Regions from separate parts of the Homo sapiens genome. Here region 2 is linked to region 1. The links come from fine-mapping of genetic effects on gene expression. A gene starts in region 1. The other region holds a variant in brackets. All regions are shown on one strand. Distances are between the middles of the regions.

Region 1 (8,337 bases):
ATAATCTTTGTTCTGAGTTTTTTTCCCAATTATAGTAAAATTGGAGGTCTTAACTGTTCTACATTAGATAAATATATGCATTTGTTTTAAAGAGCTAAGCAATGAGAATCTTACAACTAGAGCTGAAGTTCAAGAAATAAATGTCCAATGATTAAATTTTTTCCACTGCTGTTCACATCATGATTTGTTGTGATTAATGTATGTGGATGAGGACATAATAGAAAAAGAAAATGATGAGACTTGTATATATTGTGTTTCTGCACAATGAGTTCCTTTGAATGTTTTTCGTTTTAGGAATAAAATTGAAGGGTGTTTTTCTTAGAGAACATCATTTGTCATATTTATTTGATCAAGAAGTTGAAGATTTATATAATAAGGTATGGGACTTACACATTTATTTTGATAAAAGAACACAGAAAAGGTCAGGTATGAGCAGAAAATTGACATTTATTTCAGCCTAATGTGGATACTGTACTCTGAATTAAAAATTTCTTTTCCTTACTCTTCCAGCTTTTAAAGATAAGTATTATTTCAAAATAGTATTTTTTTAATTAATAGATTCAATTCAGGAAAGGCATTGGAGGGGGTGGAGCTTTTAACTTTGACAGTCTCACTCTGTTGCCCAGGCTGGAGTGCAGCGGCGCAATCTCTGCTCACTGCAATCTCTGCCTCCTGGGTTCAAATAGTTATTGTGGCCCAGCTTCCCAAGTGGCTGGGATTAGAGGCGCATGCCACCACACCCAGCTAATTTTTTTTATTAAGTAGAGACCATGTTTTGCCATGTTGGCCAGACTGGTCTCAAACTTCCAGCCACCAACCTCAGCCTCCCAAAGTGCTGGGATTATAGTCATAAGCCACCACACCTGGCTGTTGGTTATCTTTTCTTAGAAATAATGATATAATCTTTTCAGCACCTGATATTCTTAAAGATCCAGGGTTTACAAATGACTGTTAGATATGCCAAGGATGACTAGCCTATAACTTAAGGATCTGTTCAGGAACAGTAGAAAAGAAGGTGATAGGAAACTGGGAATCTTAAATCTAATACTAGTTCTGTCATGAATTAGGCTTGTTATTGTAGTTGTTTCTCAAATTTAAGAAAATATGAGGGGTCTTGAAAAAGTGCATGGAAAATGCATATCATGAAAAAACTATGCATGGATTTCAAAATTTTTGGACCAAAATAAACTCCTACTAACTTGTTATAACATGTCTGAACAGGATCTAGTTTGAAGCACTAAGAAGAATAAGACATCAGTTTGAAAAGAGGCTCTATCAGAACAACACGAATTCTGCTAAAATTGAAGCAAGAACAAACATCAAATATATGTTGACACTTGGGTGGAAGAATGGTGAACTAATTGATGCTTTATGAAAAGTTGATAGGGACAGTGCTCCAAAGAAATCAGTTTACAAATGGATAACTCGTTTTAAGAAGGCATAAGGTAATGTTGAAGAAGAAGCCCACAGTGGCAGATCATCCACATCAGTTTGTGAGAAAAAAGTTAGTTCATGGCGTAATTGAAGAAAACCAACAATTAACAGCAGAAACAACAGCCAACACCATAGACATCTCAGTTGGTTCACCTTACACAATTTTGACTGGAAAAGTTCAGCAAACTTTATACCTGATAGGTACCAAAACCATTGCACCCAGATCAGCTACAGACAAGAATAGAGCTTTCAATGGAAATTTTAAATAAGTGGGATCAGGATCTTGAAGCCTTTCATTGAAAAATTGTAACAGGAGATGAAACATGGCTTTACCAGCGCAATCCTGAAGACAAAACACAAAGCAGTGGTTACCAAGATAAGTAGTTCAGTTAAAGCACAAGAGGACTGGTTGAGAGCAAAGGTCATGGCAACAGCTTTTGAATGCTCAAGGCATTTTGCTTGTTGACTTTCTGTAGGGCCAAAGAATGGTAACGTGCTTATCATGGGAGTGTTTTGAGAAACTTAGCCAAAGCTTCAGCAGAAAAATCCCCGAGAAAGACCAGAGAGTTCTTCACCACAACAATGTTCCTGCTCATCCCTCTCATCAAACAAGGCCATTTTGCAAGAGTTTTGATGGGAAATCACTAGGCATCCACCCTACAGTCCTGGTTTGGCACCTTCTGACTTTTTGTTTCCTAATCTTAAAAAAATTTTTCAGGGCAGTACATTTTTCTCAAGTTAATGTATAAAGAAACTGCATTGATGTAGATAAATTCCCAGAACTCTCAGTTCTTTAGGGATGGACTAAATAGCTGGTATCATCACTTACAAAAGTGTCTTGAATGCTATAGAGCTAATGTTCAAAAATATAGTTTATATTTTTTATCTTTTAACCATTTTTCCACAAACTTTTTGAAGTCTCCTTGAATATGTACCATTTATAAAGGGGAAAAATTCTGTGACTACTCATGTTGACTTAATGCTGACTTAATTTTCTGTTTTGTAAATATATACAAACAAGTTGATACAAATTTTGTTTATAGCCCTTAAACAAATTTGTGAAATAAATGCATTCAGAAACAAACTAAAACAATGAAATGGATGCTACTGTTTTACTGAGGTGTAAGCATAGTACTGGCTGCTATGGAAAAAGTTACATAAACATTCATGTATCTTGTGATGATTGTTTTGTCTACAACTTCACTCTTTGCAGACATCAAGACTGTTGAAATGAGGGGAAGGGATCTGAATTCCCAAAAGAATGTCAAATGGGCATGGAGGCTCATGCCTATAATCCTTGCACTTTGGGTGGCTAAAGCAGAAGGATCCCTGGAGGCCAGGAGTTCCAGACCAGTATGGGCAACAAAATGAGTCCCTGTGTCTACAGAAAATAAAATAATTAACCAGGCATGGTGTTGTGTGCCTGTAGTCCTAGCTACTTGGGAGGCTGAGGTGGGAGGATCACTTGCGCCCTGGATGTTGAAGCTGCAGCGCGCTGTGATCATTGCCACCACACTCCAGCCTGGGCAACACAGCAAAAACCTGTCTCTAAAAAAACCTAGAATATCTTTGTGCTATGCAAATCCTAATTTGAAAAATTTGTCATTAAATTCTCTCCAAACATTCTTCTAGTGAGCAATTCAGTTTTTATTTGATTCAGGATTAGGCTTGGATAGTAGTTAACTAAATTGGATTTAGTTTTGTGAACTAAAGAGTTTTTCTTTTTTTAGATACAGGCAGTCTTTGCACAGTTCCAATATGCATAAATACCAGTGACCACAGTTAAATAAAACCAGTCCAACAATGTGGTTAATAATTCCATTACCACAGTACTGAGAAAACTTGCATAAATTTTGCTGCTAGCTCTTTAGTCCACAAATCATTGTGCCCCCCCCCCCAAAAAAAAGATGTGCATCATGATCAGTCGCCAGTTACATTACTTTGCTTTCAAAGTTTGTTGATTTGTTACTGATCATCTGTTTAGTTCATGCACAGATAGCAGAGCACAAAGTGCATAGTACTGTTGCCTCCTTGACCCCAGAGATTAAACTTGTGACCATTTATAAAAATGGATAATTAAAAGAGGTAATTGGTCAACAAAGGACAGAGCAGCAAAGAAAAGTGATAATGCTGGAAGTGAAATTGGATGTGATTAGATTTGAAAGTGGTGACAGCAAAGCAAAGATAGGTTGAGACCCAGACCTGCATGAAGCTGTAATACAAGCCTATTGAAAAAGTCTGATAAATGTAAAAAGGTAAAGTTGCTTCAACGTCTTTCAGTTTTAATTGCACTAGGAACAGAAAGCTGCTTGCGGTTGAAATGGAGCATTTACTTGTTTGAATTGAAGACTAATCAAAAACAAATCCCAATCAGTTTGACTAGCATTCAGGCCAAAGTGATAACCTTAGTTACTGCGTTGAAAGAAAATGGTAATTAGAAGACTGAAAGAGAATATATTACTACCAGTAAAAGTTGGGTTCATTATTTCAGAAGTTGGCGTGAATTGATGTTAAGCTGTCTTATGAAGCTGCAAGCTTCAGATGGAATGTTACAGAAGATGTAGCTGACTGTGGGAATGTTAACACTGCTGCTGTTCAAGGGGCAGGATCCTTCTGCTTTAGCTACCCAAAGTGCAAGAGTTGGCTTTGAATGCTAGATGTAATGAGAAAAGAACTTGTCTAGAAGTTAGGAGATCTGGGTTGAATCCAATTTCTGGTAATTTAGCAAGTGATTTTCCTTTGGCTTCACCTTGCTGTAAAATAATTCCTCCCTAAACTAAAAGTACACTTAGGCAACGCATCTAATTAGATTTGAGGTTGTGGAGAAACAGTGGCAGAAGGTGAGTGCTACCGGGTCTCAATACCATGGGATAGTAACAAGTATGAAACGGTACTAATTGGAATTAATATAACACCCCATCTATACCTCTTTGTCCACAATAGCCTTTGGGAATGCCCAGATTGTTTCACTTTGTATAAGTTCTCAAAACGCCAGAATGTGCAATCAAGTGGGTAATTTTAAGAACTCAGTCACAAATTACAATAAAGCCCTTGCAGCCCGATTTTCCACCTGGTTTGGCGCGGGCAGTGTCGCCAGGGGCTGCCGACGCCTCACAGGACTAGTGCTACGTGGCGTTCCTGCGGGCCACGGCGGTTATTCGGCCAGACGGGGACACCCTCTGCACTAGTCCTTTACCCACTAGTCCTGGCTACCCCATCCACATTCTGCGCGCCGCCCCTCAGAAAAGGGTTTCTACGATCGCCGGGGCGCGATGACCGCAGAGCGCCACCAACCAGCGGAGCCGTACCCCGCCTCCCAGGCTACCGCCGGTCCCGGAAGTGCCGTGGCGGGCTGTGCGTCGGGTGGGCGGGGAAAGATGTCGCTCCCGGAAGTGTTGGGCGCAGGGCGTGGCTGCGGCTGCGGCTGCCACGTTGGAACGGAACGTGGAGGTGGCCCTGGCCGGGGAGGAGGGGCGGCGGCGAATGCTGGGAGAGTCCGACGAGCGCTGCACTAACGCAGGATCCGGCTGCCGAAGGTCCTCGCCAGGTGCGTCCGCCCGTTGCTTTTTGTCCTCTTCGCCGGTCCTTAAGCTTTGAGGTAGAGCCCAGGCCAAAACTGGGACCGCAGCCTGGGTCTCCGCTGCCCCGCACCAGCCTGAGGCCCGGTCTCTGGTGACGGCGCGCCCCTAGTCTTGGTTTCGGGCCCGGCGGAACAACGCCTGGCATCTGGACTCCAGTGATCGCGCCCGTCCGCATTCGCCGACGTCTCCACTGCTGAGCAAAAGCCACCCGAGGCTGGCGACAGTGTCTTGCCGGGGAGTAGTAGCCGGGCTGGTAACTGGAGTTTGAGATTAGGAGACTTTCAGACCCTTGTGCACAAAGAGGTGCGGTCCCCGAGGGTGAGGAGAGGAAAAAAAATCTCAGGATTACTTTGGCTTTGGTTAGGATTTTTTTTTGTACTTGAACTATTGCCAGATTTAAAGGTTCATAGGTTTGAACTGACGTCTACTGTCATTTAACTAGGATTATTTTAAGGACGGTGGTAGCCAGGCGCAGCCTGTACTTTGAGGGCAGTCTCATTAAGTGTTACATGTTTTTGCTAATAAGTTGTTAAATTACGGGGCTGTTGTAAAATAAACCAAAATATTGCCTGGACTTGTGGGCATTATAAATTTTTTCTTGCGCTTAAGGAATTAATTTTACGTAGGGCTATTTGAAGTTGCAGTGATCTGATAGTCTGTGACAAATCCTTTCTCCTAACTTATTTTTTCTAACTATAGAAAACTGAAATTTGGTTGTCTTTGTGGGCAGTTATAACTGTATTTAATCGATAAGGGTGTGTTCTTGTTACAGCGTCCTGCGTTTTCTGTACCTCCGTTTATTCAAGAGTTGGCAAAAGCTTACTCTCCTTTTTTTTTTTTTTTTTTTTTTTTGAGACGGAGTCTCGCTCTGTCACCCAGGCTGGAGTGCAGTGGCGCGATCTCAGCTCACTGCAACCTCCGTCTCAGCCTCCTGAGTAGCTGGGATTACAGGCGCCCACCACCACACCTGTCTAATTTTTGTATTTTTAGTAGAGACGGGGTTTCACGCTGTTGGTCAGGCTGGTCTGGCACTCCTGACCTCAAGTGATCCGCCCGAGTTGGCCTCCCGAAGTGCTGGGGTTACAGGCATAAGCCACCACGCCCAGCCTACTCTCCTTTTTTAGTGGTTCTTCTGTGCTCCTTGTTTCTCACTATCCCTTAATTAACAGCTCAGGGAGAGGTTTGTAGACTCTTAAGAACTTTTGGATAACTCGTAGTGTTTTTGTAGTTTTGTAGTGATTTTATCTTAAATACGTCCGCGGTTATTTGTGAAATTTGAAATTTGAGGTGGATTTATAATGATATTGCTTAATTTTATATAAGCAAATTCTTTATTGAAACCAATAACATGGGAATAGAAATAAATTTGTAAACTGTGAAGAGCAATGATTCAAAATTTTGGGGGGATTTCACTGTCTTACGGGAATCTAATGAAAGCATTGGAAGAATGCACATATACACACATGTAGGATTTTCTTTTTTTTTCTTTTACTTTTTTTTTTTTTTTGAGACAGGGTCCCTCTTTGTTGCCCAGATTGGAGTGCAGTGGTGCAGTCATAGCTCACTATAACCTTGAACTTTTGGGCTCAAGAGATCCTCCCGCCTCAGCCTCAGAAGTAGCTAGGAATATGCACGTGGCGCACGCCCAACTAATCTTATTTTTTATAGAGATGGGGGTCTCACTGCGTTCCCCAGGCTGGACTCAAGCTCCTGCTTTCAAGTGACATGTAGGATTTTCTATATACATAATATTATGAAGTTTACAAGTTAAAAACTCCTGTAAGGGGATATTACTAGATTGATTTACATTGATTACATTGTTGTTAGGAATGTCATTAGGTTAATTTCAGCTCAAAAAGTTTTATTATACTGAAGATTAGTATGACACCAATTAGTTCAGTAACCAGTGCACAGTTGCTTTCTCCTTTGATTTGGTTTGGGTTGAGTGAAATGAACCTAGAACATTGAAAATACTAAATAAATCCTCTAAACAATTGTTTCTATCCATATTGAGATATTTTGCCTGCAGAAAATGGATTTTTACTGAAAGCAGTGCCAACTAGGGATTGTATACCTGGTTTGGGAATCCAAGTTCCAATTCTATTACCTCTTTAACTTTTTACTTGCTTTCTGAGTTATGGATCAGCTCTGTATATAGCATTGCAAGGTTGGTATTTTTCAAAGAACAGTGCTGGTGGGTTTTAGTATTGCTTCACAAAATTTACACTTTGAAAATGAGCAGAAATAAAAAAGTTTCCACCTAATTGAATGCAATTATTGAGAGAAAGTTGCATGAAAAATAAAGAGTTCTAGTCTAGAATATAAATTTTCCTCAAGAAATTTTTTTTTTTTTTTATTTTTTTCTGAGGCAGAGCCTCGCTCTGTCACCCAGGCTGGAGTACATTGGCGCGATCTCGGCTCACTGCAAACTCCGTCACCTGGGTTCAAGCGATTCTCCTCCCTCAGTCTCCCGAGTAGCGGGGACTACTGGCCGCGCCATCACGCGCAGCTAATTTTTGTATTTTTAGTAGAGACAGGGTTTCACCAGGTTGGCCAGGATGATCTGGATGTCTTGACCTCGTGATCCGCCCGCCTCGGCCTTCCAAAGTGCTGGGATTACAGGTGTGAGCCACTGCGCCTGGCCGTGTCTGTGTGTATATATATATATGTTTTTTGTGTGTTTTTTTTTTTTTTTTTTTTTTTGAGACGGAGTCTCGCTCTGTCTCCCAGGCTTACTGCAACCTCTGCCTCCCGGGTTCAAGCGATTCTTCTGCCTCGGCCTCCTGAGTAGCTGGGATTACAGGTACACACCACCACGCCCGGCTAGTTTTTGTATTTTTTAGTGGAGACGGGGTTTCGCCATGTTGGCCAGGCTGGTCCCGAACTTCCGGCCTCAAGTGATCTGCCCACCTCGGCCTCCCAAAGTGCTGGGATTACAGGCATGAGCCACTGCGCCTGGCTAATAGATGTTTTTTTTGTTGTTGTTTGTTTGTTTGTTTGTTTGTTTTGAGACAGAGTCTTGCTCTGTCACCCAGGCTGGAGTGCAGTCGCATGATCTCAGCTTACTGCAAGCTCTGCCTCCCGGGTTCACGCCATTCTCCTGCCTCAGCCTCCCGAGTAGCTGGGACTACAGGCGCCCGCCACTGCGCCCGGCTAATTTTTTGTATTTTTAGTAGAGACGGGGTTTCACCGTGGTCTCGATCTCCTGACCTCGTGATCCGCCCGCCTCGACCTCCCAAAGTGCTGGGATTACAGGCGTGAGCCACCGCGCCCGGCCTAATAGATGTATTTTTGAAGTTTCGTGGTGGTAGACGTTTTAAGT
Region 2 (8,337 bases), 35 kb after region 1:
ACATGGAGTTGAAGTAAAGGATATTTCACTAAACTTATTGTCATGATTTTCAATAAATGTGTCCTTAGTTGATAATTTTTGTAAATAATTGAGAAGAGTCCTTGAACACAGAGTTACATCATTAATTTTTCCTTTTAATTTTCTGGGTGTTTTTTTTTTTTTAACCACTAATGAACAAATCTGTAATTTACTTTTCTTGCTTTCTAATTTTATTTCATCTTGGAAAATTAATCAACAAGTTCTTCTCATCTCATCTTTGGCTTTTTCATTGTTCTTTGTGATATCTTGACTATGGAATGTTATGTATAATTTTTTACTAAGTTATAAAAATAAGTAAATTTAGTCTATTACAAGATGATTGCAAAAATCATTCTCCTTAGAAGTGGATCTCCTAGAGTTTAATTAACAAGGGAATAAAGGATATGGATAAAATCTTTACTAAAACTTTGAACTAGGCCAGGCATGATGTTTGCTTATGCCTGTAATCCCAGCACTTTGGGAGGCCAAGGTGGGAGGATCACTTGAGGCTATGAGTTCAAGACTAGCCTGGACAACATAGTGAGACCCTATCTCTAAAAAAAAAAATAAAAAATTAGCCAGGCGTGGTGGCACATGCCTGTAGTCCTAGCTATTTGGGAGGCTGAGGTAGGATCACTTAAGCCCAAGAGTTCGTGGTTGGAGTGAGCTATGATCACACCATTGCATTCCAGCCTGGGTGACAGAGCAAGACCCTGTCTGATTTAAAAAAGAAAAGAACTAATTTTGAGAATATTTAGACAGAATTGTAAGATACATAGAGAAATGTACTTTCATTTATGTACAACTAGACTATGTATTATCAAATAGAAGATCATTTGGGAATGCACTCATGAATAATAGGTAAGAAATATATGCATTTAATGAAATAGTAGTCATCAATGTGTACTTTTGGTTCTTTGAAAAAATGTGTTTAAGGAGGTAAAATCTTCCCCTTTGTCTCAATGAGCTATTTGTTTCATAGTAGCTTACACATTGAAGGCACTCAATACCTAATAAATTGTGCATTTTTTGACCTTATATCTCGTTCAGAAGTCCATAAATAAGGATAAATTGTTTCTAGAAAGCAAATTTGAGAAATAATGAGTTAAAAAAAAGAAAAGTGGCCAGGCGCAGTGGCTCATGCCTGTAATCCCAGCACTTTGGGAGGCCGAGGCGGGCAGATCACGAGGTCAGGAGATTAAGACCATCCTGGCTAACACGGTGAAACACCACCTCTACTGAAAATACAAAAATTTAGCCAGGCGTTGTGGTGGGGCGCCTGTAGTCCCAGCTACTTGGGAGGCTGAGGCAGGAGAATGGCATGAACCCAGGAGGTGGAGCTTGCAGTGAGCTGAGAATGCGCCACTGCACTCCAGCCTGGGCGACAGAGCGAGACCCTGTCTCAAAAAAAAAAAAAAAAAATATTTTTATGCAAGTTTGTTAATGAATGTAATTAGATCAGTGTCTCTGATTTATTCCTTAATGTGAATAACTTAAATTCTTAATTTCTTTTAGTTTTTAAATTCCAAATGCTTCTCTTTAGTTGGGGAAAGGGAATTAGGGTTATAGATATTCTCCTGTAATAGTCAACATTAATAATTAAGTGTATTTGCAGATGGTGCAGTGCTGTACTCTGCATTAAAATTACCCAGTTCTAAAATGCCACTGAACTTGAATACTAGATATTTACATTCAGATGTGTAGATAACATAGCACAGAAGACAGATATTTCATCTCATGTAAGAAAGCTTTGTTTTTCTTTAAAAATTTATCTCTAATCTCTGATATATTTTTGTCTTATTTTGAATTTTTATGCATGGGAGAGAAAGCATTTAAAATTATTTGCCAGCAAAATGCCCCCATTATATTTCTTCTAAAGAAAGCATTGAGTTTATTTTTAATCAGTCTTGCAGGTAGTCTCAGAAATTTATAACAGAACTGTGTATATTTTTACCAGACTAACCCACTGTTCCAGGTATGACTAATTTGAGTAAACACAAAATGTATACTTGAATTTAAGTGTATTAATAAATAATGTACTTATATTACTTTTATGTTATGGGTACCATGTGATTTTTTTTTCATTTTTTTTTATGATTCAGTTAAAAACAAAAACACTTTATAATCAAATCCAGTGGACAGGAATTCTTAGATGTGTAAAAGTAGGTTTGTTTTAAAATTTAAAAATAGTATAATTTAAAAATATATTTTCCGGCCTGGCGTGGTGGCTCACGCCTGTAATCCCAGCACTTTGGGAGGCCAAGGAGGGCGGATCATGAGGTCAGGAGATCGAGACCATCCTGGCTAACACAGTGAAACCCCGTCTCTACTAAAAATACAAAAATTAGCCAGGCATGGTGGTGGGCACCTGTAGTCCCAGCTACTCGGGAGGCTGAGGCAGGAAAATGGCGTGAACCCAGGAGGCAGAGTTTGCAGTGAGCCGAGAGTGCGCCACTGCACTCCAGCCTGGGTGACAGAGTGAGACTCTGTCTCAAAAAATAAAATTAAATAAATAAATAAATAAATAATATATTTTCCATATTTTGAGCCACTCATAGTTACCTAAGAAAACAAAGATTCTTCAGCCTCATTACTGAGATACCAGTAATGAATATGTACATGTTAGTTTATTTAATAGTGTTCTTTTTTTTTTTTTTTTTTTTTTTTTTTTGAGACAGAGTCTCGCTCTGTCGCCAGGCTGGAGTGCAGTGGCGCAATCTCAACTCACTGCAACCTCCGCCTCCTGGGTTCAAGTGATTCTCCTGCCTCAGCCTCCCGAGTAGGTGGGGCTACAGGTGCACACCACTGCCGCCAGCTAATTTTTGTATTTTTAGTAGAGACGGGGTTTCACCATGTTGGCCAGGATGGTCTCGATCTCCCGACCTCGTGATCTGCCCGCCTCGGCCTCCCAAAGTGCTGTGATTACAGGCATGAGTCACAGCACCCGGCCAATTTTTTGTATTTTAGTAGAGACGGGGTTTCACCATGTTGGCCAGAATGGTCTTGATCTCCTGACCTTGTGATCCGCCCACCTCAGCCTCCCAAAGTGCTGGGATTACAGGCACGCACCACCATGCCCGGCTAGTTTTGTATTTTTAGTAGATATGGGGTTTCACCATGTTGGGCATGGCTGGTCCCGAGCTTCTGACCTCGAGTGATCTGCCTGCCTTGGCCTCCTAAAGTGCTGAGATTACAGACGTGAGCCACTGTGCCCAGCCTGTTTAACCAGTATTCTTCATGACCTTGGATTTTATTTATGATTATATAATGGGAGGTAATATTTAGGGAAGGCATAGATCTTAGTTGTAAATTTGGATCTGAGAACTTTTCTGGAATAACTTGGTATGTCATCTACTCTGTAGATGAAGAATCATGTGTAAATTTTTTTTGTCAGTAAATCATTCCACAGTTTTATTCTGGCTAAATTGTTGCTTTTTTCATCTCTTTAGCACATTAAAGAGGAAAAAGAAGAATCTGAATTTCTACCCTCATCTGGAGGAACATTTAATATCTCTGTCAGTGGGGGTAAGTACTTGTTGGTTTTGATTTCTAATTTTTTTTAACCATTGGAAAACAAATAGTTCCTGCATTTAAGTTAAAATGCTTCAAGTCAGGTGCTGTGGTGCATGCTTATAGTCCCAGCTACTTGGGAAGTTGAGGCAGGAGG[A/T]TCACTTGGGCCCAGGAGTTTGAGGCTATCCTGGACAACATAGTGAAACGCTGTCTCAAAAAAAAAAGTTTTATCACAGGTGGTAGAGTGTGAGAAAGAACTCACTTTTCCTTTAGTACAGTATATGTGATCAGTGCCTTGGGAAGGCTGGTGTGTTCAGACACCTAGGTGATCTTTGATAATCCAGTTAAAGCATCTGGAAAATGTATTATTTTGTATTTATCTCAGCATATTTCTGTAGACCTCTTCCATAAATACCAATAGCTTGTGTTAGAAATTAATCCACTAGTAATCAGAAATTAGTGTTGTGGTCTCCATTCATGTATATATATAAAAATTGATAGATGTAGTACTTTGTTGTTGGTTTTGGTAACAAAAACTCTATTTAACTTGGATGTATTATTTTCTTGTTGCAGACATTGATGGTTTAATTACTCAGGCTTTGCTGACGGGCAATTTTGAGAGTGCTGTTGACCTTTGTTTACATGATAACCGCATGGCCGATGCCATTATATTGGCCATAGCAGGTGGACAAGAACTCTTGGCTCGAACCCAGAAAAAATACTTCGCAAAATCCCAAAGCAAAATTACCAGGGTATGTTATTTTAAAAATAAGCAATAACGTATTTATCTTTCTAATTATAAAAACAATACACTGTTATTATAGATAACTGAAATGCAGAAACCAGTAAAGAATTTTAAAAGCTCATTCATAATTCCTTGACCTGGAAATAGTTGTTGGCATTTTGGCATGATTATTCTAGTTTTGTTGTTTTTGTATATATTAATAATTTTAAAGACGGGGTCTTGCTCTGTCACCCCAGCTAGAGTCCGGTGGCGTGATCTTGACTCACTGCAACCTCCACCTTCTGGGTTCAAGCGATTCTCCTACCTCAGCCTCCCAAGTAGCTGGGATTACAGGCGTCCGCCACCATGCTTAGATAATTTTTGTATTTTTAGTAGAGATGGGGTTTCACCATGTTGGTCAGGCTGGTCTCGAACTCCTGACCTCAGGTCATCCGCCCACCTCGGTCTCCCAAAGTGCCAGGATTACAGGCATAAGCCACCGTGCCTGGCCTTATTAAATTTTTTAATTGCGGCTGGGCGCAGTGGCTCACGCCTGTGATCTCAGCACTTTGGGAGGCAGAGGTGGGGGGGTCACGAGGTCAGGAGTTCAAGACCAGCCTGGCAACATGGTGAAACCCCATCTCTACTAAAAATACAAAAAATTAACCGGATGTGGTGGTGGGCACCTGTAATCCCAGCTACTAGGGAGGCTGAAGCAGGAGAATCGCTTGAACCTTGGAGGCAGAGGATGCGGTGAGCCGAGATCACGCCATTGCACTCCAGCCCGGGCAACAGTGCAAGACTCTGTCTCAAAAAAAAACCCAAAATTTTAATTGCTCTATAATATTTCATGGTAAGAAGATGTAATGTTTCCCTTATTTTGTTATGTTTAGGTAGTTTCCAGTATTTTCCAAATAGAAATAAACACGCTTGTTTATATAGTGATAAACACCTTTGTTGTGCCTAAAGACTTGTACAAATTTCTGATTATTTAAATTGAACTGTAGTCATAGAAGAGGAATTTAACTTTTATTTTAAGTTCAGAGGTACATGTGCAGGTTTGTTATATCTAACAAACTTAAGAGTAAACTCGTGTCATAGGGGTTTGTTGTACAGATTATTTCATCACTCAGGTATTAAGCCTTGGACCCATTAATCATTTTTTCTGATTCTCTCTCTCCTCCCACCCTCCAATAGGCCCCAGTGTGTGTTGTTCCCCTCCATGTGTTCACATGTTCTCATCATTTAGCTCCTATTTGTAAGTGAGAACATGCGGTATTTGGTTTTCTGTTCCTGTGTTATTTTGCTAAGGATAATGGCTTCCAGCTCCATCCATGTCCCTGCAAAGGACACGATCTCATTCTTTTTTGTGGTTACTTGGTGTTATTTCTACATCATAAAAAAAGTAATTTTTATTGAAATTAGTTTTCATAAAAGTTGTACCAGTATTGAGTCCCATTAGCCTCATCTCATCTCAGTCTCTCCTCGGTTATCTTTTAGCCACAGTGGCTGCCTTGTAGTTCCTCCCTCACTCATTGCATGTTCCTTTCTCACTGGAACTTTGCATCTGTCGTTCCCTTGGCCTGGAAGGCTTTTTCCTTCTTGATGAAGTTAATTCCTGCTTGTCCTTCAGATCACGTGTCAAAAGTCTACATGCTTGGGCAGTTTTTCCTGATCCATCTGACCAGGTCACACCTTTCTATTAAAGGTTCTGATAGCACCTTATATTTTTCCTTCTCAGCACTTTATGAAATATGTTGTCAGTTGTTTTTGTTGTTGCTGTTGTTTCTTGAGGAACAATAATACCATTATTATGTCATTTGATTCAAAATTATACTTCATTTTGCTGCTGCATTTGGCATGAAATACTTGACACAATTAATTAGTCAGAATTAATTTTTATTGCTATGTTAAAGACTTTTAATTCTTCCTTTGTTTTCGTTTCTCAAGCTCATCACTGCAGTGGTGATGAAGAACTGGAAAGAGATTGTTGAGTCTTGTGATCTTAAAAATTGGAGAGAGGCTTTAGCTGCAGTATTGACTTATGCAAAGCCGGATGAATTTTCAGCCCTTTGTGGTAAGAGATGTGCTTTATATTTAACTGCATTTACATACGTGGCAGGGTATATTGTAAATAAACTTAAATGACAAATTTTATTAGAAACTTTTTAAAATCTACAAATCACAAAAAAGAAAAATTCTCATTTCAGTGCCTTTCTCAGATTTATTAAATACGTCTTCATACCTACTCTTTTTTTTTTTTTTTTAAATCTACTAGTGATTTTGGTTTCAGACAGACAAGAGTTGGAATCTTGCCTCTGCTACTTAGTAGCTGTATGATCTAGGAAGAACTACTTTCTAAGCCTCAGTTTATTCATCTGTGAAATAGACCATAAGTAACTCTCACTTAATAAATATTAGCTATGATAAAATTAATAATAACATTAGAATAGAAATTACCATTATAGGCCATGACTAAACTGGTGGCCAAGGAATAAATATTTGCAAGAAAAGCTTAAGGCTACTAGTATAAAAACAAATAGCCATTTGCTGCCTTGAAATAATTATAAGAATATAAAAATTACAAAATACTAACTGCTTTTTTTTTTTTTTTTGGAGACGGAGTTTTGCTCTTATTGCCCAGGCTGGAGTGCGATGGCACAATCTTGGCTCACTGCAACCTCCACCCCCTGCGTTCAAGTGATTCTCCTGCCTCAACCTCCCAAGTAGCTGGGATTATAGGCATGCACCACCATGCCTGGCTAGTTTTGCATTTTTCGTAGAGACAGGGTTTCACCATGTTGGCCAGGCTGGTCTTGAACTCCTGACCTCTGCTGATCTGCCCGTCTCAGCCTCCCAAACTGCTGGGATTACAGACGTGAGCCACCATGCCCAGCCATAACTGCATTTTTATAAGTAATTTATACTAGACTTAGCTAACATTGATAAATCTATTCCAAATGTGCCTTTAGGGTTTTTTTGTTCAAATGTTGTTCCCATTTATTGTTTTTCTAATTTAATTAATAAAAATTAGTTGTACAGTTAGATAATAGTTTTGTAAAATCATTTATTGTATACAATTTTTCATTCCCATTCATTTAACAAATGCATATTTACTGAGCATTTAGAGTGATTTTGTTTCTCTATGCTATTCATTGGTTATGAAGCTTAATCCATGCCTCTGAAAATATTATTTAGCTGCTCACAGCCTCATATACAGATTGCCTTGGGTATAATCTTATTTTATTTTCCTCTTACTTACAGATCTTTTGGGAACCAGGCTTGAAAATGAAGGAGATAGCCTCCTGCAGACTCAAGCATGTCTCTGCTATATTTGTGCAGGGAATGTAGAGAAATTAGTTGCATGTTGGACTAAAGCTCAAGATGGAAGCCACCCTTTGTCACTTCAGGTAGTATCTTTGAAACAAAAGGCACTTAATTTTTAGTGTTGTCTTTCACCCTACTTATCATCAAGTTATAATCTATAAGTTCATTTTTTCTATACATTCAAGAACTTCTTTTGCTGGATAATTATATGCATTTATTGCTATCTTTGAAGAAGCAAAGTTTGAGATGATAGGATAGGAAAATGGGGTTGCAGCTGTTGTAAAATCATGGTTGTGATTTGTGAGTTTATTGGGGGAAATAGGTGGCAGGAGGATTGAAAACAGCTCTAGGGTTTACCTCTTTTTCTGTGTGCTCCTCTGTCTGCTTCCAGTGGCTCTGCCTGCCATGAGCAAAGAAAGAAGCAATGTGGGTAAAGGAATAGGAGGCATCCCCAATGCCAGTAGAGAATCTTTATGGTTAAAGGAAAATGAAAGTGAGAGGTAAATGGAATCCCATGTAGCAGAGGTCCCCAACCCCCAGGCCATAAACCAGTACCCTTCTGTGGCCTCTTAGGAACCTGGACTCACAGCAAGAGGTGAGCAGTGGGTGAACGAGCATTATTGCCTGAGCTCTGCTTCCTTTCACATCAGTGGTGGCATTAGATTCTCGTGGGAGCACGAACCCTTATGTGGGCTGTGCATGCAACGGATCTAGGTTGTATCCTCCTTATCAGAATCTAATACCTTATGGAACAGGCC

The links. PIP is the estimated chance that this variant, and not a neighbour inherited with it, causes the effect.
Region 2: its variant is the best candidate, but not a certain one, in a credible set for the expression of SEC31A in whole blood (INTERVAL, PIP 0.81).

Annotation. Positions count from the first base shown.
Region 1 is chr4:82,887,732-82,896,068 of GRCh38, reverse strand. SEC31A (SEC31 homolog A, COPII component) reads left to right here and starts at 4,916. Exons shown (of 27, transcript NM_001077207.4): 1 at 4,916-4,981. It overlaps THAP9-AS1 (THAP9 antisense RNA 1), which reads left to right. Exons shown (of 4, transcript NR_034077.1): 3 at 295-377; 4 at 1,222-2,617. SNORD143 (small nucleolar RNA, C/D box 143) reads left to right here and starts at 141; the gene lies at 141-216.
Region 2 is chr4:82,852,895-82,861,231 of GRCh38, reverse strand. SEC31A (SEC31 homolog A, COPII component) reads left to right here. Exons shown (of 27, transcript NM_001077207.4): 15 at 3,468-3,543; 16 at 4,102-4,280; 17 at 6,203-6,329; 18 at 7,517-7,662. Among named protein-coding and RNA genes, the nearest start is that of SEC31A, 34 kb to the left of the region's middle. The variant A/T (reference allele first, on the strand shown) is at 3,686.